7 linked regions of the Homo sapiens genome follow. The protein of the gene in region 5 purifies or fractionates together with the protein of the main gene of each other region. This does not show direct contact. Each region holds a gene or a part of one and is shown on either strand. Other genes may lie near its edges.

Region 1 (3,500 bases), on a different chromosome or scaffold from region 5:
CTCAGATTGGAGTTCTGAGGAATGACTAGAATCATTACACAATGGTCATGCATAGTAATTAGTTTTAATGGAATATTAAGTAGATTGAAGAATAATTATCTTCTCTTCCAAAAGTTCCAAGCATAGGAAATTGTGTTCTTATAAATGTCTTTGTTTTACATATTATATAAATCAATTTTCTACTGAATATGGTTTGAAATTGAAGTGATGGCTAATTTAGTAGTCATTCACTTGGTCTTGCAACATTCTGCATGCATTGTCCAGTTTCACACTGTTAATTTTCAAATCAACAGCTTTGTTTTCAAATGTCCCAAGGCCAATTACTGAATCCAAATATAAACTTTGTAAGTCAAGAAACTCCAAGCAGCAAGAAATTTTAAGTATATAACCATCAGGATTTCAGTGTGCATTGCAGCTCCTCTAATTTTAGGCTTCTTTCTTCTCATATACTTACCAGTCTTTGCAATGTATTTTGCATTGTGATGGGTCTCAGTTTACAGGAAAACACTCACTTTGTTACTCATAGAAGACTTCTCATATCTATTCTGGTCAGTCTCACAGGGTATGTTTATCTTACATGTTATGAACAATATAACTTTTTCTAAAAAGATTTGCATTGCAAAATCCTGACGAACATATATGTTTTGTTAGAACACAATATATGCTTAATAAACAAATGTTTGAAAATCATATTTATATAGAATAGTAACATACTCAACAAATTCTGATTTGAAAGTGAAAATACCTTAAGTTTACACATGCCATGAACGATTCATCAATGTCATTCATTATTTTGCAAGGTATTCTCTTCTCCAGATGAAGCGTAATTTATAAAACTGAAGAAAAATAAGTCATGTTATGGGCAAATGTATTTATTCATTTTTATTACAAGAGGGATTTTTATAACACCATTGTAGGAAATAATTGTGTCTGAAAGAATGAAAGATTCTGGAGAAGGAATCTTTAGAAAAAAGAAAGCCTACTTCTGTTTTGGAAATTGGAATAATGTATGCATACACATGAAGAATTTTCAGAAAGATGAGCGGCGTAGGGGGGTCATTTACAAATGCCTGTCACTAGAGTCACTAAAAATAAATCAACCCTTACTTAGGAATAGATCAACTTTAAAAATTTTGCTTTAGGTGGTAAACTAGGCACTAGCTTCAGCTTCCCTTTTCTCAATACAAATTTTGTTAGTCAGTGGTAAGCTTTTTAAAATGAAGCGGAGGCGATGGGAGCGTTTCTATCTATTCATCCAAAAAACATGAAATATAGTAAAATATGGGAGACAATTCATTTTCCTTTTTAGTATTAAATTTCAAATTACTTATTTATGGTGAAATTTAAAGATTTCTTCCTAGGAGATATTATCATGATGTGTTTTTCAGAGGAATTATACCACAGCTTAAATGCGTGTCAGCTATCTAACAAGATATTCATTTGTGCATCTCCTTAGAATAAAAGTAAATTAGGTAAACTCCACACTTACACAACATAGAAAAACTCCTTGGTAAAATCAGTCCATTTTAGTTAATTTATAAATGAGATAAAATGAAACAAATGTAAAGTATTCATATTAAAAATACCAGATTATATATTGCCATTTTTAAATAACAAGGTTACTTAGAGCTATTTTAAAGTTTATTGATTAAATAAGAAACAATTAAATCTAAACTCTAAGAAGCAATTAAATTTAAATATATTAAAAATATGCTCCTCAACTCTGTTCAAAACTGTTAAAACAGACAAGAACTCAGAGTAACTTCCTAAATAACTTTATATGTACCATTAGTTGCTATGGCAGTTTACATACATTACAGTTAGTACCCACAGTCACAAAGAAAATCACACAAAACATTAATCCCCAAACGATGAGCATATAGTCCTTTCTAACAAATACTGTACATGGAGTACCCAAAACCGGTGAAAAGGTATATCCAAATTTAGTTCTGATTTTTGAAACTTTGTTCTCAATTACTACACAAACCTACAAATACAACGCAGAAACTTTTTTTTCCAATTTATTTATAAAGTCAAAAAAGTGACTGGTACTTCTCTATACATGCATTAACCCTGACATAGTTCCTCTTTGCTAGCTTAAACACAGCCAACCTGAAGTTATCTTAAACTGCAAGTTTAAACTTATTAAGATAAACACTGAATATTACACTTAACTGGGTTCCATTCTGCCCAAAAAGAGATATTAAATGAGCCAAATACTTGTTTTAAAAAGTCTCATTGTCCAATTCAGACATTTCTATGTCACTTGATGAAAAGGCATTTTGAGATTATGATATACTATACTGCAGGTTTATTGTAAAACAAACAGTATACTTTATTATCACAATTAAAGCTGCAAAATTCATGGAATTTTTCCACTATCCCACAACTAGATTTACTTCTAATTATCGTCTATTTGGCAAAGTACTTTAATAGGGGGATTTGGTTTGCAGTAGCCATGTAATAAGCACAAAGTAAATCAATCTTTATCATTTTTCAGAGGAAATTGCAAAAACTTTACCACCAGGCAAAATCTATAGTTTTGATTTGTTTTTAACTATTTACAACTGGTGCAAATATTAATTGTGTCATTTTCATCCCGCCCCCCCCGCAACCCCTTCCTTCCTCACTTCTACCCGTTTTAAGGTTCAAATTATTTGGTGGCTGTTTGTTTAAAAACAACACTGTTAAGTATCTTCATAAACTTTTTATGCTGAGCATCTGCTTACAAAAAAGGTTAACTCGCATCTAACTAATGTTAAATGTAAGAAATGAGTCTTGTGTTACCCAGTTGGGACAAATTCCTGGCTGCGGAGTTAGAATGGGAAAGTTACAGGCAGGCTCCTGTAGTCAGTCATTGATGAAGTTAGGAGAGCTTGACTTGAGAAATCTCACCTTTTGAGCTGCTTTAGAGGGACTCTTGTTTTTGCTGCCTTTGGGTCTTCCCCTGGGTCTCTTAGGAGAGGGCTCACCGGTTGGTTCCTAATTGTGAGGGAAAAAAAAATGCTGTTGTGGCAAGAATGTCTGAAAGAAATTGACCCTGACTCTTTAGCTATATTTTCTGCATGTGCTGCTCAAAAGAGCTGTTGGAACACGTTCAGTTCAAGCATAAATGGATGATGATGGTACAGAGTTTACAGAAAGGGGAAATAACTATACTTTTAATGCAAGGGTTCAAAGAGGAAACTCTATTTTGTATATGAAAACTAGATTCTACTTCAAACCTAAAATGGTAACAAAGACTGAAGAGGCATGTTCTAGAAAGAAAGTCATATACTTTTAAGGTGTAAAGTTTACAGGGCTATGCATTTGGCAACTCATAGGAATAATAGGCATTTTAAACGAACACCACTCTGCATTATACTAGCATTTCAAACAACAGAAATACGAAGCTACCATCACAGATATTTCAACAATCTTCCATATTGAAAAGGTGGCCTTTAATCATCTTTGTATACCTGCCTTCTAGGTGGATTATGATTCAACTGACACATTTTGAG
Region 2 (4,206 bases), on a different chromosome or scaffold from region 5:
ACTTAAGTTAGTCAGTTTCTCACTTAATGTCATTTTCTCCTATTCAACTGCTTCAGTTCAAAACGTTTTGACTCCTAAAAAGGGAATACATCATTGTTGCCTTTCCTCAGTCTAACTGCACACCACTTTCCAAAGCAATAGCTTCAATCATGCTTCATAAAATCCCCTGCAAGTATACTGTTGGACACATAAATCAGCAAGCTGAGATTTTAGTATTTCTAAGGCAAGACCAGGGATCACTGACTGGTGGCTTTTCCATGGCCCTCTTTACAAGAGAATAAACAAAATCATGAGTTACACTAGGTCTGTTTTTTTAAACAGCTCCCGGTGGTGTGTCTGATACTTGCTGCTGCATCCTTAATTAGAGAACAAAACACTAGCATAGAGGAATTGGACTCCAGGATGAGGATATCTATATCCAAGCATCTCTGACTTCATCAGGACACATGGCATAGAAGTACTATATGTTCCCTTTCACAAAAGCTACGTCTCTCTGATATATATCTGTGTCTCTATGAGTGCCACACATTGTGAAATTGTACTAGATAGAGAGATCTTTACAATGATGGTCTCCTTCTACCCTGTTTCATTACAGTGAATATGGGCTCCCCTTCAGAGATGCTTGTCTCAGAGTGCCTCTTCATAACCACCTCGTATCCTGACTTACAAATTAGCTGAATCACAATTTCACATCTATGTTACATGTACACATCCAAATTTTATGTCTCTGTGTACTATTTAAACCTATATATCTAAACATTTCTAATTTCCTATGTCTCCAAATTCCAACACACTTAGCCTCTACAATGATAAATTCAGATTCCACAACTGAGACATTTTTCTTCTCCAAACCACTCACAATGTAATCCTAAGTCTGCATAAACTTGTTTCCTATTATGCTCCCATTCTGCCCCACACTACCTACACTTATTTAATTGCAGTTGTATTTTAACTGCAATTTTCAGGGATTGTTTCTTGGTGCTCAAAAATACCTGTCTATGCTATAAATGAACAGTTAAACACAATCAGCAGCTATCTGAAAATTAAAGAAGCATATCTGTAGGACATATGTGCATGCTGATCTTTGCTTAAGAACCACTGAATTAACGAATTGGGCTAGTATTAGCTTCAGATGGACATATCTGCAATTTTGCTAAGACTGAAATATTTCATACTCTATGTTAGGAAGGGAAAATGAGCAGAATCTTATCAAGACACTTTACAAACTATAGGAATATCCAACATTTGCATACTGATTTCTGAACATTAAATCTGCATCCAATCGTGTTTCATCCGCCACTAACACTATAGCTGTGGGGAGGAGAAGGGCAGAAAAAGGAAGGCTTCACATCCAAAATGTCAAGCCCTGCTGAAGAATGATAGAAGGACTCTGTGGAAGAGCAGAAACCAACTTCTGGGCTTAAAATGGAGTTCTACCACCCCCTGCTGGACCAAACGAGCAATACAGAAGAGGCTAAAAATGCTTAGAACTGAATATCTTGGGGATATTTTAACTTGTCTTGTAATTTATTATATTATTTTAAAAAACCAATTTCACACTACACTAACAACATAACATTCTTTGCAATCATTACATATCTCAAAATTAGTGCTATTTTATTTTTCCTTTAAAGACTTTCACCAATGCATGTTTTAGCATTTTGTGTCCCTAATTAAACGTCCAAACTTGTCTGGACAGTTGAAAATGCTTCCATTTATTGTAAATATATTTCATGTGAGTGTTTACTATCTAAACAGCCAGATAAATTCATATCTATCTCTCTAGAGACAAACAGTGATAGCTTCCACAAATTCCCTCTCAGGTTATTCTACCAGGCTATTCATTTTTTTTTTTTAAGAGATAAAAGCTTCCACCAGTTCTCCCACAACCCCAAAAATCCTCTACAGGTGTAATTACAATGTAATGTTATAAAATGATTCCACCTTTCTGTATTAATAAGGGGTTGGGGTCAAAATGAATGACTGCAACACATCCCTAGTTTTATCCATTTGCTTTCTTACACACAATATCCACGGCCCCTCTCTTAGTTTCCAACAGAAATAAGCCATCATCATTCACTTCATAGTCAGGAATTAGGGTTTTGGGAAAGGGGTGGAAAAAAAAAAGAGTCTCCAAGAATCGAACGTCTTGCACACAGCAGATATTTTGCAAATGAGTTTAACACTGATAGTTTTTGCTGCTTCTGTAAAACACCATCGTGCCCTTTCCTTCCGCAACCTCAGATATTTCACTGTTAACACACTCATCCAATTTCTGATAATAAAAATAAGAGAAAGCCATAATCCCAGAGGAAAAAAAAAGAAGAAGAAGAAGCGGTTTCCCTGGATATCCTGCTCACCGATTCCCCTCTCCAATTCTGTATTTTCCCTTCTCTTATTTAAGGGTCTCCACACAACAGATACAATTTTAGGGACAGCTAGGAGAAAGAACGAAAATAATAATAACAACAACAGCAATAACTGTAACTTTAGTTCTTTCATTTCATTCTTCCTGCGCCTCCCTCTTTGCCTCTCTTGGCCGGGTGGAAGGGGGAGGGAAAGTAAATGCAATAAAGCGCCACACTCCTACCTTGCCCGCTACTGACAAGCAACCCCAGCAGGTAGAAGGAGAGGAGGAGGCTCATGTTCAGGACGTGACACCGGTGGACAGTTTCAAAGTTATTAAGTCCAGCCCTGGAGAGAGAACCTTTCGCTGCCCCGGCCGCCTCTGCTAGAGCCGCCGCCGCCGCTCCCGCGGTGCCCCAGCCGCCCGCAGCCCGCGCGCTCCTCCTCGCAAAGTGACTGCAAGCTCCGCTCTTGCCGCACTATATCCAGGCAGCGGCGGCGGCAGCGGCGGCAGAAGCAGCAGCAGCAGCGGCCGCCGCGGCGGCAGCAGAGCCGGGCGGGGAGGGCGGCGGGGGCGGGGGCGCGGCGAGGGGAGGTGCGGCCGAGGCGTATCCCTCCGCGCTGCACGGCGGCCGCTCTTCCGCGAGGCGCGCGGTCCCGGGATTCGTCCGCAGTGGAGCTCGAAGTCACGGGTTCGGTCCCCGGTGCCTCCGCCTAGAGGGGCGGCCGCGATCGCGAAGGCGCCACTCGCCCGCCGGCCATCCGCAGGTTCATGCACGCCCTGAGCCGAGAAGGGCGTGGGGATGGGGGCAGCCTGGAGCTCCTTCACAGCCGCCGGCTGCCTCAGGACAGCTGAGCTGATGCTGAGCTGAGCTGAGCTGAGCTGATGCTCATGCAGATGCTGATGCTGATGCTGATGCTGATACTGATACTGCAGGCGACCGCCCCGAGCGCGCCCCGGCTCAACGTGAATGGGGGATCTGGAGGCGGGCGGTGTGCCCCGCAGCTTATTCCTTTTGGGCGTGGGAGGAGGGAGATTCTTGTCTCTCCGTGGACCTCCTTCTCCCTCTCTCGCTCAAACCTGGAGCAGGCTGGCCCCTTGCGCGGCTGTCCCCTTCCCACGCTCCCCACCCCGCCGCGACAGAGGGGAAGCAATTGTACCCTAAAGTCTACACTGTCTGTCTCCTCAGGCGCTAAAGGGTGGGCGGAAAAATAACGTACAGAGTGTTTCCTCTACATCTCGACCCATTGCTGTTGGGAGCGGCACCTTACGGGAGAGACACTGGAGAGGGGACGAGCCGCGGGAGGGGCTGCGTTCAACTCAGCCTTAGCCTCAGCTGTGTCCTTAGAGGCCTGAAGTCTCTCCTGGCCTCACTCCGCGGGCTCTGCCCTCGGTCCCAGTGCGCTGCACTGGCCAGATCCCCGCCAGGAGTGCACCGAGGGAGGACTGCAAATGTGCAAAGATGAGTTGGGTCGCGGGGGGGAGACCTTCCCCAGATCAGTGCCCTACCCCGAACACCCACGTACCCGCGTGTGCGAGTGTAAATTGAAGTGAGGGAGCCGTGGCAAACGCCCGGAACTAACTCTCTGCTCCTTAAGATTGGGGCTTATCGTTATTTCTCCTAGAAGGGTAGGAAAACGTTTGTGAGATTAACGTCACCTCTCCTGCAAGAGCGGTTAAGAGGCAGAATCACCGGCCCGGGTGCGGAGCCCATGTCAATCTGGCCTGGGGTTACCGCGACCTGCAAACGCTGACGATGGGTCCTTTCATCTGCACTTTCTCTCTGGCTCCTTAGAAAACTCAACTGCCTCGCCCCGGCCTCCACAAGGACCCTAGCTCCTTCCTTATCAGTGAGGACA
Region 3 (3,500 bases), on a different chromosome or scaffold from region 5:
GAAAAAAATTGAGTCTAAAAGTTTTAATTGTTCATGGCTTTTTATTGTTTAGTGTCTGATTAAAAACAGCAAGTATAGTCTTCAATGTGGAATCATTGTGTTGAATTACATTCGGTGAGGGAATTCACAGTTTTCATGTATAGCATAGGCCTGTATTCCTCAAAATGGTATATTTTTGTGGTTGTGGAAGCCAAATGATCAAAAGAAGCCAAAGAGTTGTGTTTTTTTTGTTTTTTGCTAAGCTTTTTAAAACATTATATTAAAACAAACATGGATATTATATTCATGATGTAGAAAGCAAAATTGGCATTATTTCAAAGATGAGACCAGAGACTTAACAGGAATTTTAGGCTTGCAACAGGCTGTTTAAAGCTGTATTCTCCAGACCTCCCAGGGCTGAGTACACTCTTTTGAGCAATTACAGATGCATCAGTGGAAAAGTTGGAGAAGTGGTGGTTGAGTTTAAAAAAGGTAAAATTAATGTACTCTGTTTCCCTTTTTTTCCTATTACCACAAGGCACAAAATATGACCATTTTCAGTCGAGGTCATGATAATTGTAGCATCTTAATTTTGTTTATTTGTTTGATCCATACACCTGCAGTCAGGATGAATTCCTTGAAAATAAATCTCATCCGATCTCATTCTCTCACTTCTTACCCTCATCAGTTTAAAACAATTTAATGACTTCTCATTGTTTTTAGGATAAAGGTCAAAGTCCTTAACATGGCCTATAAGACTCTTGAAGGTTTGGCCATTGCCTATGAGGTAAGCGTCATGCCCAGCACCAAGTATGCAGGCTGCCTCACCGTCCTTCCTGTTTGCCTACCACTGGACATTTGCACTTAATATGTTCCCTATCCCTCTTCACCTAGTTAAGTCTTACTCACCCTTCACGTCTTAGGCTTTTTCTCATCCACCTTAGGAAAGCCTTTCCAGATTTGTTAAATCACATCAAATCCTCAGTTATATGCTGTCCTAGTACCATGTATATCTCCTGTGTCCCATTCACCAGTTTTATTTTTATATTAATTTGGATGGTTATTTGATATCCAACTCCCCCACTAGATGAGTGCAGGGACCCCATCTATTTCTTGTACCAGTGTGTAAAAAAGTATCTGGTATGAAATAGGCACTTAGAAAATATTTGTTGAGAGAAGGAATAAATTAATTTATTCACAGATTACTGGTCTGTCAGCAAATCTGCTTTCCTAAATGACAATGCACGTAAAGTCCCTTATAATGCTCTAATGGATACTTCAGTGCCAACTTGTATATTGTGTGCCAGAATACAGTAGAAGTAGGGTTGCTTTATCCATTTCTCATAGTTGTAGTGCTCTAGCCAATTCAAAGATACGAATCATGGTTTAAACTTATTTTGTTACAAAATATTAATAATTTCAGGAAATTAATAACACTTTGGTGTTTATGCCATATTATAAATAGTATAAATATTACTTACTAATATCACTTAGTAAGACAACATGATAAGCAAATACTTATTAAAACATTAAAACACACTCCTTCTCCTAAGCATTTATTTCCCTTCATTCAAATTTTCTAATTGTTTCTTCATTTGGGTATTTTTTAAAGAACTCTATATATCTTAGAATGCATGATGGAGTGAAATTGATCAGATGTCTTAATTTTGTCCTCATAAAAATAAAAACAAAAAGCTCATATAAAAAATTAAAATGCATTATTCTGTTGTGAGGATATCCTTTATTTGTTAATTGGGACGATAAAATGGAAAAACAACCCTTGGGCTTAATGAAACCATTATCTTATTTATTATATTTAGTGTTCAATTTGCATTTTTATTAATAGGAATACAATTAAGGTATTTAAAGGTGCATCTTAAATCAGCATTTTCTTGTGTAATTTTTCACCGTTCCCTCTGATTTTGAAAAAAAGAAAACTTTAAAAACTAGATGTAAGTTTATCATTACTAATTTTTGAAGGGCACTTGTTAAGAACATACGTACAGAATTATTGCAAAGCATAGTTTGCTAAATACAGGTGCCTCAAGTGGATTTTCTATGAATTACATGCTGCTAGATAATCACTAGTAGGCAACTTACCAAAATTTTTCTAATAAAGCCTGCCTCCTCCCAATTTAGAATCATTAAAATACAAATCAGAGTAAGTGAAATTGTAAAGATCTTAATAGGCATGCCAGTTTGTTAACTCTTTATAAAACACCATCAGGCTTAAATGCTCTAGCTAGTACTGCAAAACAATGGATTGCAATTGTGCCCTGATTTGACTTGCAAACAACTATTCTACAAGATGGAATTTTTAAATTTTAAAGATGTATTTAATTTATTGTTTGATTTTAATTTAAATCACAATCATTAATTCTAATGGAAGTTTTCATTATCTTACTCTTGCAATTTCAGGAAAAAAGAGTTTGTTGCTATTTGCATAAATGCATTGAACTTTAAATTTTACTAAAGTGCAGTAATAACTGTTTTAGCTCTCTTTGTTCATCTGTTGACTATTTTACCACAACATAAAATTGTTTGAAAAATCAAAATTTATTTAGTAAACCAAAACTTGCACTGACACCAATATATGATAGTTTGTCATGATAAAAATATTGTTACATAACTAATATCAAGTATAGCATACATGACTCTTATGTGTTTACTTGGCATTAATGTTCTTAGAAATTAAGTAGGTTGGATGGTCTTTAGATACAGTGGTAGATAAGAAGAAACCTCATTAAATTAGTTGCGTTTTTAAATGTTGCTCAATATCTTTTTTTTTTTTTGGTGTTTGTTTGAACTTTTTATTTTGTTCCAGATACATCTGCTATTTTTAAAACAGGCTTGCAACATGTTTTCTTAAGTAATAGCTAGAACAAATCGATGGAAGCCTGGCTTAGATCCTAGATTTTCCTTTTTTCAACTTATTTACCAAAGATTGTAAAAGAATCTATTTTCTAGTAACTTGTTAGTTATACTTAGCAATGTAATTTATTAGTAAAAACCTTTAACAATGCTGGCATTAAATAATACAGCTGAATGATTAATGTTAACACTGGCTGAATTTTTGTTTTAATTTTGGTGTGTTTTTTATGTGTATATAGGAACTTATTTTGTATATTTTTTCAGAAAATTGATATTTTAATTTTGTGAAAATCATTTATATTTTGGTTTTCAAAACAGGCCATTGGGATATTAAATACATATAACAGAGAAAGTGTAGAGATTTTGCTCATGATGCTCAAAACAGACATATAGTAGTCCAGTGGCTAGTTTTCCTCCTGGCCTGCTGGAACTTACGTAGAAACCAAGTTTGATGTGGTATAGAGCTAGCATGATATGGCAGGGCTAGGTGCTCTTTCCCCATTTCCTATTATATTGGTGTCAGGATGAGCTTTGTGGCAGTCTCTGTTGGCACTAATGTTACATTAAATCAAAGGAACAAGGCTTCCTTATCCAGAAGCCTGCTCTGTTGCCTTCTAGCTGTCAGACCAGAGACTTTCAGTTTGATGTTG
Region 4 (3,034 bases), on a different chromosome or scaffold from region 5:
AGGTTCAAAAACGAGGATGAATCTCAAGAATATAATGCCGAAGAAAAATAGCAAGTTGCAGAAGAATATGTACACTATAGATCCATTTACACATGTAAAACTATGACATGTTGAGGCCACAAACATATAGTAAAACTTAAAAAAAAAGGGATAAATAAAAATTGGACAGTGGTCATCTCTTGGGAGTTGGGAAAGGGATGTAGTTGGAGAAGGCATGGAGGTTAGTCCAGAGATGGGGGAGGTTGCATTCTCTTCTTTAAACTGTAGGGGAAGCACATGGCTGGAGTATTACCTATGTCTTACACAGAAAAATTGTATGTGTCTGCTCAAGAATTAATAAAAGTACTAAAAAATGTGGGTAGCCCAGAGCACAGATTGAGAGCCACACAGGTAGGAAATGGAAAATAGTTTGAGTTTGAGTAATTAGGACTTAGGCCTAGGGCTGGCATTCATGGGCACTGTGTGACTTTTTTAAAGCTTTTGTCTATCATACCTTCTGCCCCACCCTTGAAAACATTTACTGGGAAATTCTGTAACCTTGTGAGTGGCCACCATTCTACAATGTTATTATTATTTTTTTAATCTTGTCTCCAAATTGCTCCAGTTTTTTTTTTTTTTTTTTTTTTTTTTTGAGATAGAGTCTCAGAGTCTCGTTCTGTCACCCAGGCTGGAGTGCAGTGGTGCGATCTCGGCTCACTGCAACCTCTGCCTCCCGGGTTCAAGCAATTCTCCTGCCTCAGCCTCCTGGGTAGCTGGGATTACAGGCGCACGCCACCATACCCAGCCAATTTTTGTATTTTTACTAGAGACAGGGTTTCACCGTGTTGGCCAGGCTAGTCTCGAACTCCTGACATCAGGTGATCCACCTGAGAATTGCTTGAACCTGGGAGGCGGAGGTTGCAGTGAGCCGAGATTGTGCCACTGCACTCCAGCCTGGGGGACAGAGTGAGACTCTGCTTCAAAAAAAAAAAAAAAAAAGGTAATGGTGCCACTGAGACATACAGTTCTACTGATCTAACTACACCTGACCTGCTCTCTTCTGAAGAAATCCTTGCCTAGACATTACATGAATTTATTGCTAATTTTTGTCTTTTTCCCTTTATTTCAAATGCAACATTAAGGAATCATTTTAACAATTTTTAGGAAACAAAAGGAGTTACTCTTACAATGAAGGAACCAGTGAAAATCACTTGGTCTAATGGTAGGGTGACTTGATTTATACCTGTTGCCCTAGTATAATTATTCATAATGTTCCCTTTTACTTTGAAAGGTGACCTAACTTGGGCAATGAATAATAAGGTTACCCCAAATATTCTGCATATATTTTTAGAGGCCTTTATGTTATCAGAGAATGAGAGTGTTTAACCAAAAAGTGAGATTTTGGCCTAGCACACATTTCCCTAAGAATAGATACTCCATACCATTCTCCTTCCATCTCACTCCAAAATTGTTTCTCAGCCCATTTCCTGGTGTGAGAATGCTCACACAGTCTCTTTTCCTGGGTTCAGTCTTCTTCGAGTTAGATCCATTGAAGTCCATCCGAAGTAGGGGGGCCATGATCTCCACATGTCAAAGGCCAAAATACAGCAGGTGACAAAATAAAATCAGGAAAAATAGGCCACTGCCTGGATGCTGTATCTGAGTATATAAATACGGATTTAATTCTTGAAACTCACCTTTAGGAAGCTGATTAGGAGACCAGGTCACTGACTCTCTAGAGACCTTACAAATGTGGGAGACAGATACACACATAATGAAAAGGGACCAGAGAGATGGGTAAAAGCTCTTACCATTTCCATAAAGGACAAGGAGGTTGGAAAAGGAAGGAGCTCTCACCACACAGTGGTTTTAACTCAGAAGAAATTATTTGAGGTGGCGCAGAAGAGATTTTTAGGTAAATGAAACTCTTTTGTATGCTACTGTAATGGCATATATTATAAAATGGTAGATGTTATGCACTTGACAAAACCCACAGAACTTCATACAGTGAGTGAACCCTGATGTAAACTATATATTTTAGTTAATAATAAGCTATCAATATTAGTTCATCATTTGTAACAAATGTACCACACCAGTGTAAGTTGTTAATAACTTAGGAGAAACTGAGGTGGGGGAAAGGAAGTATGTGGGAACTCTGTATCTTCTGCTCAATTTTCTGTAAACCAAAAATTGCTCTGAAAAAAGGAAGTCTATTAATGTAAAAAAAAAATACGCATTTTAAGAGTTCAAAAAAATAATGTTAATGATAAAATATAAAAGTCATTACAAATACTCCTTCATGCATGTGGAAGAAAAGAAAAATTATTAACTGGCAGATAAATCTTACTAGTAATTGTACAACTTTTGGAAACATAGAGAAATGACTTTCAATGGTATCATCAGGGCAAGAAATTATCAAGACAGATACTGAAGTTATTTTCCCAAGACATGGCAACAATTTTAAAAGTTTTAGAAATATAACAGTTCCCCTTTGTTAAAATAACTCTTCCAATAACATTATATTACAAACAACAGAGCAAGTTAGTGAAAGTTTTGAATCACTCGTCTTCATTGCACAGAACTGGACTGAAATTCTCATGAAAGCTCTCAATTTAACTCCTCATTTAACCAGATTGCTGTAGGGGAGAAGAAACATCTGCTTCATCCTTCTTCCAATCCTTTTGTTAGCATGAAGACTTGCATTTTTATCATTAGAAGAAGATCATGATGTTTAAATTAACTGGCAAAAATAGCTTTAAAAAAAAAACTAATAGTGAAATAAAAAGCAAAATAGGGTATTATGGGTGGGCCCTAATTCAATATTACTGGTGTACTTATAGGAAGAGGAGATTAGGATACAGACAACATAGAGGAACACATCTAAGGATGTAGTGGGAGGTGGCCATCTGCAAGCCAAGGAGAGGCCTCAGAAGAAACCAAACCTGCCGACATCTTGATCTTGGACTTCTATCCTCCAGAAGTCAAAGAAAATTAATTTTTGTTGTTTAAGTCACTCAGCCTGTGGTACCTTGTTTCGGCAGCCCTAGCGGACTAA
Region 5 (3,972 bases):
GGCTCACACCTGTAATCCCAGCACTTTGGGAGGCCGAGGCGGGCGGATCATGAGGTCAGGAGATCGAGACTATCCTGGCTAACACAGTAAAACCCCGTCTCTACTAAAAATACAAAAAATTAGCCAGGCGTGGTGACAGGAGCCTGTAGTCCCAGCTACTCGGGAGGCTGAGGCAGGAGAATGGCATGAACCCAGGAGGCAGAGCTTGCAGTGAGCCAAGATAGTGCCACTGCACTCTAGCCTGGGCGACAGAGCGAGACTCTGTCTCAAAAATTAAAAATAAAAATAAAATAAAATAAAATATTCTTTTTTTTTTTTTGAGACAGAGTCTCGCTCTGTCACCCAGGCTGGAGTGCAGTGGCACAATCTTGGCTCACTGCAAGCTCCGCCTCCTGGGTTCAAGCGATTCTCTGTCTCAGCCTCCCCAGTAGCTAGGACTACAGGCGTGAGCCACCACACCCAGCTAATTTTTGTATTTTTAGTAGAGACGGGGTTTCACCATGTTGGTTAGGCTGATCTTGAACTCCTGACCTCAAGCGATCTGCTCGCCCCAGCTTCCCAAAGTGCTGGCATTACAGGTGTGAGCCACCGCACCTGGCCATTTTTCTCTAAGAACGTCTTAAAACAATCTTATATAATAATTCATCTAAGTATGTGAGGCTTGTCTCTCTTTTACCTTTATAAACATGTGTTCATCCAAATATGACCTCAGCTTTCTTGTGTGAGAAACCAGCGCCACAGACTTCCAGCTTAATGTAAACTTCCAGTTTACATTACATTGGCAGTGCTGGAGAAACTGAAGACCCACTGACCCAGCACATGCACCCCGGAAGCACCAGATCTTGGCAGTAATAACCATTCCTAACTTTCTAAAACACAGTGTGCCACGAACAAAGTGTTTCACAAGTCTTAATTTACTGAGTCCTCACAACAACCCTATGAGGCCAATATTATTAGTGTTCCCATTTTACAGATGAGAAGCCAAAGGCACAGAGACCTTGCCGAAGACCACAAAGCCAGTAAACAGAAGAGTCGCGACTCAGAGGCGGGCAGCCTGGCTCCAGAACCCGCCCTCCTGTCCACTCTGCTCCCCTGCCTCTCAGGAAGACAGCTGGCTACACCAAGTGCAGGGAGCGAGGCGCCACCCCCATTCATTCACTCCAAGCATTTATGGCTACAGAGCCTGCGCCCAGGGCGGTTTATGGAATGAGTCTCCTCGATTTACAGCCACACCTCCTATCAAATCGCCTTTCCCTCCCCCGGCGCGAGAATCGCACCTTGCTCCTTGTGGATCGGGCGCCGCCGACGGAACCACCTGCTGTCTATAGAGGGCACCTAGGACGCAGCGTCCAATTCCCCTCACTGGCTTCAAAAGACAAATCTCCGTATTGTTGTACCAGGAGGCACGAGAAGCCTCACCACTGTAGGTTTTTCAGCAGAGGTCACTGGAGGTCTGGTTAAACCCGTACAGCACTGAGGGGGAGGGGGCCCGGCTGCGTTTCCGAAGCTGCGCAGCGCCCACAGCAGCTGCTGGTGGGAAGCGGCTCGGAACACACCCACAGCTGCCAAGGAGCCGGCTGCACGTTTTAAAATAAAAAACGTCCTGGGCCCCAAAATGCACAGCCCGCCTCTCTCGCCGCCCTGGGCACGGAACGCCGCCTCCACCCACAGCACTCCAGCAACTGGGAAGCAACCGGGAAGCAACCGAGGGAATTCCAGCTCGGGGGGCAACCGGGAGGGGAAGGCTCCGAGCGCCGGAGCCCCAGCCCGCGCCTGCCGCAGAGGCGAGGCCGCAGAGCCCACCCGCAGGCGGCCATGACCCCACCTGGAGACGCCCATGTCCGCTCCCTGCGCCCCGGGGACAAAGCCCGAGGCTGCACCGCAGCGCACCGCAGCCCTGCACCCGGGCCGCCCTTCAGGACGCGGGCACCAGACCCGACCGGCGGGCATCCACCTTGTCCCCACTCCGACGGCGCCCGGGAATGCGGCCGGTGCCCCGAGCTCAGGCTGGGCACACGTGCACCCACACCCACCACGGGCGGGGTCCCCTCACACCCCCCTCGGGCAGGGGCACACTCACACCCATCTAGGGCCGGGCACACTCACACCTCCCTCGGGCAGGAGCACACTCACACCCCCCTGGGGCCGGACACACCCACACTCCCCTCGGGCCGGGCACACTCATACCCACCGTGGACAGGGGCACACTCACACTCACTCTGGACAGGGGCACACCCACACCCACATTGGGGCCGGGCACACTCACACCCACCTAGGGCAGGGACACAACTCACTCTGGACAGGGTACAGTCACACCCACTTCGGGCCGGGCACACGCGAACTCACCCACCCTCACACTCCCAGCCCGGCCCGTCGGCGCGCACCCGGGCCCCGCGCGGCCTCGGCCCCTCGAGCCTCCGCGCCCCCCGCCCGGCCGGGCCCCGCACACCCACGCCCCCTCCCTCCACGGCCCAGTCACAGCCCCTCCCGCCGCTGCAGTCGCCGCGGGCCTGGATTCCTTGCGCTGCCGGGCCTGGAGCCTCCGCCGAGGCTGGGCCAGGACCACGGGGACCGCAGCGCCGGCCCCTCCGCCATCTTCTTGGCCCGCGCCGCCCACCGCCCGTTGCCCGCGCTCTCACCGGCCGGCTGCGCGCGGGCCGCGCCGCCACAGTCCCTCATCCCGGCCCGCGCGACGCGCGTGAGCCAGCCGCCGCTCCCCGGCCTCTCTGCTGCTCCGCCGCTGCTGCCGCGGCAGCCCGTGCTGTCGGCGTCCTCCGCCGCCGCCGCCGGCCCAGTGCGCGGCGGCCGCGCGTCCTCCCGTCACCAAGCGCAACCCCCCGCCTCCGGCTCCGCCCCCGCGGCGGTCACTACCCGCCGCCAGGGGGCACTGCCTCGCGAGGCCGCATCACGCATGCGCTGGCGCGCGGCATGCCGGGAGCCGGAGTCCCGCGGAGGGCGCGCGCGGCATGCTGGGAGCCGCCTGGCCCCGCCCCGTCGCCGCGCCAGAGGCCTCCCGCGCGGACCTACCCTGTGAGTTAGCGGTGTCTTCCCGTCTCTTTCGGTGCAGAGCAGTTACCATCTGACACGTCTCGGTGTGGTTTGGTGTAATTTTGCCCTCTCAAACCACGTTGGGCTTCCCGAGTCTGAGATTTCACTTTTCTTCGACTCTAGAAATACAGCCATTCTTCTCAAAACGTGGGCTGCCCTGTTCCTCAGTCCTTCTTGTGGCGGGCTCGTGTCTCTTCACCTCCTGTTATTCTCACCTTTTTAGTCCTGTCACTTTTACTCGGTAATTCACTCAGCTGCAGCTCGACTAGTGCTCTATTCGGCGTTTTCTAATCTGCGTTCAGCCTGGTTTTCTAGATTCTCTTAGTGCCAGGTGCGTTTCTGGAAATTGAATCTGACTGGCATTTCTGGAGAAACGGAGGCTAAACAGCCTGAAGCTTCGATAGTAGAAGACAGGGGCGCACACCCTTCAGTCCTGGACATTCCCTGGGTCCTCAACTGTGAGAAGCCGCAAAGGGCTGAAAGGCCCCCGTCAAAAGTCATCCGTGGAGCTCCACCTCCTGCCCTGCAGCTCAGTCGCCTTGCAGGGACTCTCCCGCCTCAGGAGATCTCCCGTCGGGCTGTCTCGCCGCCCGCGCTTCCCTGTTGGGCCGTCGTCACACTTCACTCTTCACTCTTATACACAGGGCTCTGCTTTTTCGCCTCCCGCTCCCTCTCCACTGTATTCACTTAGAAAACCCAACTGGGCGAGCCCAACCCTTCTCCTCCATGACTGCTGAAGAAAATCACACATCCAGGCTGACTGCCTTCACCTTAAACTTGTGACAACACACTGGCGGCGAGCACTTCCCACCCCCGTGACCACACACTGGCGGCGACCATTTCCCACCCCTGTGACCACGCACTGGCGGCGAGCACTTCCCACCCCCGTGACCACACACTGGCGGCGACCATTTCCCACCCCCG
Region 6 (3,500 bases), on a different chromosome or scaffold from region 5:
TTCCATCGTCTTCCTTGGTTTGCCTGGAGTAAGTTAGTTCTCTTAATTAGCAAGAGAACTTCTTTGAACTTGCCTCTTTCTTAGAAGCAATCACTATTCCTTTGACCTGCAAGATTTCAATTATTTGGGATTTACAGACATCTGTAATATTGGTATTGGTATTTTATTTCCTTCCTTCAAGTATTTATTAAATATCCACTAGATGGCTTTGTCTTAAAGACATGAGCTAAATTAAATACACATCTTTTTAATAATAACTTTAGAATTTTTAGGCATAAAAGTCTTGCTGCTCTGCTGTATTAAATCTTCCTGCAGGCATGGTCAATTTGCTCTGTAATGCTTATACTAGGGAGGTCCCTCACTAGCCGCCAGGCTGTGAACCTTCGAATATTCAAAGTAGCCTCTGGGCTGGGTGGGTGTGGTGGCTCAAGCCCGTAATCCCAGCACTGTGGGAGGCTGAGGCAGGTGGTTTACTTGAGGTCAGGAGTTTGAGACCAGCCTGGCCAACACGGTGAAACCCTGTCTCTACTAAAAATACAAAAATTAGTCAGGTGTAGTGGTGCATGCCTATAATCCCAGCTACTCAGGAAGCTGAGGCAGGAGAATTACTTGAACCTGGGTGGAGGCTGCAGCGAGCCAAGATCGTGCCACTGCACTCCAGCCTGGGCAAGAAAGTGAGACTCCATCTCAACAAAGTAGCCTCTGGCTCAGTAACTAGCTTTCCCCTCTACAGTGTTTTAGGTATGTAGGAAATTATTGATTGTATACTTTTAAAATACACAAGAAAAAGTTATAGAATGCCATTGTGTCAAGCACTAGGCAAGTACCATAGAAGATTTAAAAACAAGAGGAATGCAATGGTAAATTAGTATTTATTAAACATTCTCTACTTATATACTGTCATAGCAGATTATATTATTAATATGTATTCTTTTGAAGTCACACCTTAAGAATGGAAGAGGAAGGGAATGGTTCATAATAGAGCCTGAAGTGTTGTATTCTCAAAACCCAGAAGATGACCTTCTCGTGCTTTTGCTCTTCTCCACTAAGTGAGGCCTGGCAACCTCAACTGCTGAATTAAACCTATCATGTAGTTCCTACCAAGAACACCTGCTCCTTTGAAAATAAAGATCAATTACATGCCATTTATTTAATTTCAAAATTCACTCTCACCTCTATTGTATTTCTTGAGGTAGCAGTTTGACTGTCTTAAATTTTCCCCCTCACTTCTCACCTTGAGAATGACCTCTTGTTATTCCATGATTTCCAACTATTATCCATATTTATGTAACTACCTTTCTTTACACAGCAAAAGAGATTCTTATGTTTTGGGAAAGTGGGTAGAGGTATGAAAATTAATAGATATCAACTAAAGACAGACATCTAAAACTGAAGGTTAAAGAGAGTATGTGGTAAAGGTGTAGAGAAGCAAGAGAGAAAAGTGGGAAATGCGGAGTCAGGTAGGGAGGGGAATGAATGTGTCTCAACATGAAAATACTGAGGATCATTTTGATGCCCTTTCTGTTCCTTGTCTACTAACATCTCTAGTCCTATTACACTTTTTCTTCATGATTTCCTCTCTGCTGCTGCTTTTCTAATTCATTAGTAAGAGATCCTCTTTACAGTCCTGGTCCTCTAATCAGGATGGCCTCGATGTCCTGCTCCCATAGGCTTTCCTTCTCTTTCAGCAGGTGTGTAAGACACAATTTAGGGATTTCTCACCTGGTAGGAATACTGGTTTTATTCACTATGTTCCAGTACATAAAATGTGCCCTACTCACCAGCTACCAGGCTGTGCACCTTTTAACATTCAAATTCTAGCTTTGGACTCAAAAACTAGCCTTCTCTTATATAGTTTTCACAAGGTTTTCACATTAAGAAAAAAGAGCCTCTTCTACTTCACTTTCCATAGTTATTTCAGTATTAAATCTCGACACAAAGTATAATGATAAAGAGACTAATTTTCCTATGTATCCCTAGACAAATTACTTTGCAACTTTTGCTCATGACTTCAAAACCTTGGAGAAAGAATCATCTATATGTAGTGTTTACTTCATGGCTAGACTGAAGATATAAATTTAAATTAGCTACATTTATAGAAGGCAAAAAGTAAATCTGTCCAACTCTTACTTAGGGAAAGAAAATCTTATGCTATTTCCATCATTGCTTGCACTTACCTTATCAACATATTTCTTAGGATTGTAAAATCACAATGTTCACCATTTTCAACTGTAAGAAAAAAGCAGACCGCATATGTTATATTTCCACTAAACCTAGTCTTTTCAAAAAATATTTCACAGGAACTTGGGGTGTAAAAACAAGAAGAGGAAATGCAAAACAGATCAATTTTTTTGAGATTTAACACTAACATAGTACACTCAATGTGAGGGCATGACAGAGAAGTGTACTCTATTATTGCCTTATTGTAGTTTAATCCTCAGAAATAGATATGTAAACCTAACAAATGAACTCTCCAGAAACAACTTTGAAATTCTGAAAGGGGAAATCTTATTATTGGTAAAAAATATATTTATTCTATAATACATTTAAAAAATTCAGTGGTGTGAGTGAAGGGAGAATCACTTTAGAAAAAATCTTAAGGTAACCAAAATGAAAAAGGGAGCCAAGAACTTTCAGGTTCTTTACTTTTATTTTTAAAGAATGTATCACAAATAGGAATATTACTTGGGAGTAGAGGGGTAAACTACAAAAGAGAGATGCAAATCAATTTCTCCGGTGCGTATTTTTAAGGGGTAAGTTCTAAAGCCCCAGCTCAGCAAGTAAAAGTTGCCTGGGCATGATAGAGAGAGCTGGGAACAAGGTACACAGGTCACTGATGGGAAAATTGCCAATAAGGACAGTTACCTGAAACAATATCCTAAAAATTAAAGAATTGTTCAAAATAAACCAGGGGCAGTGGTGTGTGCTTATAGTGACGTGATGTGGGAGGAGCATGATGTGGGAGGATCACTTTGAGCTCAGGATTCTGAGGCCAGTTGGGCAACATAGCAAGACCTTGTCTCTTAAAAAAAAAAACGAAGTTCAAAAATAATAGCAACAAACAGATAAAACAATCAAATCTCAATTTTGGTTTCAGCTTACTATAATACAGAAGATTAAGTATCAGATTAAACCAATACAATAAACCTATTGCCAAGAGGAAGTACTTCTGAGGCTTGGTGTTATAACTAAGATTTTATTGGTATTTAAAACTCCTTACTTAACCCTTAATAATTTAAGATAGCAGGTTAAAAAAGAAAACAAAAAACTCCTTACAAAACTAGTAAAGAGGATCTCTTATTAACGAAATTTTTTTACTCTAAATATGAGATATCAAAAAGGGCAACTTTTGCACTGAGGAAAGAAGACTGTGGATGTTTTAACTGGGCTTACAAATTTCTTCAATCATTCTTGAGGGTCCATGACCATCTGACGTTCCGATAAAAGTGACTGGCCTTCTCTCCAAATGTTTGATTCCAGGTGGTTCATTAGATTCCCTG
Region 7 (3,500 bases), on a different chromosome or scaffold from region 5:
AGCACAGTTTCAGTTAAAGTTAAATAGAGGTTATTTTTCTCTGCCAAGTGTATAAAACTACCTTTCACTTTTCTATTTATCTAGGTTTTTTTTTTGTTTGCTTGTTTTTTTTTTTTACAGGAGTGTCAGGCAGATGCGTTTGTTTTGGTAATGGTTGCACAACTCTGTGCCGGTAGCTAAAAGCCATTAAATTATGTACCTTAAATGGGGGAACTGTATGGTATGTGCAGTATGTGCCAATAAAGCTGCTAAAAAGAAAGAGAAAACTCAATCAGACTCTTCTATGACCCCCCTAACGTCATTCACATTGATAATGTTGGTTCTGGTTTCTATAATGTTGTCACCTTGGCTTTGACTCTGGGTGCGTTGGATTTGGTCAACTGCTTCTCACTGGCAGCTGGGATCAGTATGTCACAGTCGGCCTCCAAGATGCTTCCTTCATAGGGCTTTGCCTTGGGGAAGCCCAGAATGGACCCATGTTGCTGCCATTGATTGAAAATCACAATTAATAGCTGCACCAGAGTTTTAAATATTTATATTTAGTGTCTATGCTATAAAAATGTATTAATACCAATTTGAAGTCTTCCAGTTCCTTTGGGTCAATACCATCTGGATTCCATATACTCCCATCAGACTCACCAACAGCAATACATTTAGCACCAAAACGATGTAAATATCTCATAGAGTGTAGGCCCACATTACCAAATCCCTGTGAAGAACAATTACCCATAACACAAAAATTAAAGTCCTGGTATAGACAGCAAGAGTCATATTTTGACCAATGTAAATCCATACTCTGTTTATTTAGAAGCAATTCTCAAAATTCTTTTGCCAAAAGAAACAATGTACTAACTGGTTTCTCTTCAACAATAAAATTCTCTGTTTAAGAATGTGATGAGCGGGCATGGTGGCTCACGCTTGTAATTCCAGCACTTTGGGAGGCTGAGGCAGGTGGATCACTTGAGGTCAGGAGTTCGAGATCAGCCATGGCCAACATGGTGAAACCCCGTCTCTACTAAAAATACAAAAATTAGGCATGGGGTCCGTGCCTGTAATCCCAGCTACTTGGGAGAATGAGGTAGGAGAATCACTTGAACCTGGGAGGTGGAGGTTGCAGTGAGCCGAGACTGCACTCCAGCCTGGGCAATAGGGTGAGACTCCATCTCAATCAATCAATAAATGGCAGTGGTGTTAAGTACACCACCAGGTCCTCAGTCCTTGATGATCAGATGTCCTATGTTGTGAAAAGGGATGTCACTAATTTGGAGAAATACAATTTTTTTTTTTTTTTGAGACCGAGTCTCATTCTCTCACACAGGCTGGAGTGCAATGGCACAATCTTGGCTCACTGCAGCCTCTGCCTCCCGGGTTCAAGTGAGTCTCCTGCCTTAGTCTCCTGAGTAGTTGGGATTACAGGTGCCGCCATCATGCCCAGCTAATTTTTCTTTCTTTTTTTTTGAGACAGAGTCTGGCTCTGTCACCCAGGCTGGAGTGCAGTGGCGCAATCTCGGCTCACTGCAAGCTCCACCTCCCGGGTTCAAGTGATTCTCCTGCGTCAGCCTCCAGAGTAGCTGGGACTACAGGCGTGTACCACCACACCCTGCTAATTTTCCTATTTTTAGCGGAGACCGGGTTTCACCATGTTGGCCAGGATGGTCTTGATCTCTTGACCTCGTGATCTGCCCACCTTGGCCTCCCAAAGTGATGGGATTACAGGCGTGAGCCACCACGCCCGGCTTAATTTTTCTACTTTTAGTAGAGACAGGGTTTCACCATGTTGGCCAGGCTGGTCTCGAACTCCTGGCCTCAAGTGATCCACCCGTCTTGGCCTCCCAAAGTGCTGGGAATACAGGCATGAGCCACTGTGTCCAGCCACCACTTCTATTTTCAAGTAATTTCAACTTAATTAAGATTCTCCTAAGTAAAATACATGTTAACACATGAAACAAATTTGGGTCAGTGTGTAAACCTTTCTATATACTTACAAAACTTAGAAAATTATGTTAAGAGACTTGCCCTTCTAGCTATAATTTCAAGTTTGAATACTAACCAATATTTTGGTTGAATTTGGTGATAGTTTGGTTGAAGTTGGTAACAGTTTCACATGTACTTGAGAGATACTTAAATCAGTTCTAGTTACATGAATCATACCAAGGTTCAAAAAACAAAATATCTATTACTCTGAAAACCACCACTCTAAAATTTAAGAGATTTGAGATAACTTAATTTTAAAATTACAATTCTAAAAACATTGAAAACTTTACTTAATGTCTATCAGTTATTAAGGAAACTTTTTTTGTTTTTGTTTTTACCTGAACAACAAATGTTTTATCTCCAAACCCTGGTGTCATTCCTAAAATGCTCATGTAAGAAGCTTCATTGATGAAATTTTCAATCCCATGGAAGACACCACGGCCAGTAGCAGAGATGCGTCCATGGATTCCCCCTTGGCTGATGGGTTTACCAGTAACACAGGCGTGTGCATTAATATCCTGTAAGAGGGGGTAATTGAAAGAATGAAATGTCAAGTCCAATTTCTCTGTTGAAGGAACATAATGAATTAAAGTCAAAGCACATTCTCATTTAATCAAAAATATGCTAATTAGGAGTGTGTGTATGAATGTATTTAAGGTATACTTTTACCAATAGAGACAAGACTCACTTTTTCAGCTTTCTGTTCCTAGAAAATACAATAAAATATACTATATTTTCTGTTTTTTTTTTTGTTTGTTTGTTTGTTTGTTTTTGAGACGGAGTTTCACTCTTGTTGCTCAGGCTGGAGTGCAATGGTGAGATCTTGGCTCATCGCAACCTCCACCTCCCAGGTTCAAGCGATTCTCCTGCCTCAGCCTCCTGAGTAGCTGGTATTCCAGGCACGTGCCACCACGCCCGGCTAATTTTGTGTTTTTAGTAGAGATGGGGTTTCTCCATGTTGGTCAGGCTGGTCTCAAACTCCTGACCTCAAGTGATCTCCCTGCCTTGGCCTCCCAAAGTGCTAGAATTACAAGCGTGAGCCACCACGCCCGGCAAAGTAGACCATATTTTCTGACAGAAAAAACAAGAGTGTAGGGATTGAACATCAAGTAAGTACAAATAACATCACAAAAGTAGAGCTAGCTCAGCCTAAAGCTATCATTCCTTCAACAAGTATTTAAGCACTACTAAATCAAGGTACATACACATCCCATTCATGAGTGTCTTAAAATCTACTATAAGACTTGAGCATGTCACCAAAACAGAGCCTGAGACAGGAAGAGGCTTTACAATTGTCTTGGATGGGAAGACTCAATGTTGTATTCTGCCACTTTTGAAAAAGGAAGTTTTTAATATAACTTGATACTTAATATAACATGACATTCAAGTTCATCTAAGAGTAGAGTAACGAAAGTATTTAATGAAGTATTTTTAAAAAGGTATGTGTGGGTAAGAGTCCTGTGCTTCTGTGTGAGCAGAGTATCTTTGGTAGCAGTGGTTAGCTCTGCAAAGTGGAGATGGGGGTT

What was found.
Region 1: the proteins of ARHGAP39 (region 5) and HMGA2 purify together in Homo sapiens (affinity purification with mass spectrometry, with the first as the bait; one large-scale study listed by BioGRID). This does not show direct contact.
Region 2: the proteins of ARHGAP39 (region 5) and NCAM2 purify together in Homo sapiens (affinity purification with mass spectrometry; one large-scale study listed by BioGRID and IntAct). This does not show direct contact.
Region 3: the proteins of ARHGAP39 (region 5) and CNKSR2 purify together in Homo sapiens (affinity purification with mass spectrometry; one large-scale study listed by BioGRID and IntAct). This does not show direct contact.
Region 4: the proteins of ARHGAP39 (region 5) and HMGN4 purify together in Homo sapiens (affinity purification with mass spectrometry; one large-scale study listed by BioGRID and IntAct). This does not show direct contact.
Region 6: the proteins of ARHGAP39 (region 5) and SEPTIN7 purify together in Homo sapiens (affinity purification with mass spectrometry, with the first as the bait; one large-scale study listed by BioGRID). This does not show direct contact.
Region 7: the proteins of ARHGAP39 (region 5) and GLUD1 purify together in Homo sapiens (affinity purification with mass spectrometry, with the first as the bait; one large-scale study listed by BioGRID). This does not show direct contact.

The regions. Positions count from the first base shown.
Region 1 is NC_000012.12:65,827,483-65,830,982, reverse strand, and holds part of HMGA2 (high mobility group protein HMGI-C), read right to left. Parts: intron 2,983-3,500; coding exon 2,896-2,982; intron 1-2,895.
Region 2 is NC_000021.9:20,997,003-21,001,208, reverse strand, and holds the start of NCAM2 (neural cell adhesion molecule 2 isoform 2 precursor), read right to left. Parts: upstream 2,801-4,206; 5' UTR 2,646-2,800; coding exon 2,591-2,645; intron 1-2,590. UniProt on the Homo sapiens protein: May play important roles in selective fasciculation and zone-to-zone projection of the primary olfactory axons.
Region 3 is NC_000023.11:21,380,918-21,384,417, forward strand, and holds part of CNKSR2 (connector enhancer of kinase suppressor of ras 2), read left to right. Parts: intron 1-3,500.
Region 4 is NC_000006.12:26,541,366-26,544,399, reverse strand, and holds part of HMGN4 (high mobility group nucleosome-binding domain-containing protein 4), read right to left. Parts: intron 1-3,034.
Region 5 is NC_000008.11:144,683,047-144,687,018, forward strand, and holds the start of ARHGAP39 (rho GTPase-activating protein 39), read right to left. Parts: upstream 2,801-3,972; 5' UTR 2,640-2,800; intron 1-2,639.
Region 6 is NC_000007.14:35,884,557-35,888,056, reverse strand, and holds part of SEPTIN7 (septin-7), read right to left. Parts: intron 2,230-3,500; coding exon 2,178-2,229; intron 1-2,177.
Region 7 is NC_000010.11:87,060,344-87,063,843, forward strand, and holds part of GLUD1 (glutamate dehydrogenase 1, mitochondrial isoform a precursor), read right to left. Parts: intron 2,493-3,500; coding exon 2,313-2,492; intron 710-2,312; coding exon 572-709; intron 483-571; coding exon 345-482; intron 1-344. UniProt on the Homo sapiens protein: Mitochondrial glutamate dehydrogenase that catalyzes the conversion of L-glutamate into alpha-ketoglutarate. Plays a key role in glutamine anaplerosis by producing alpha-ketoglutarate, an important intermediate in the tricarboxylic acid cycle.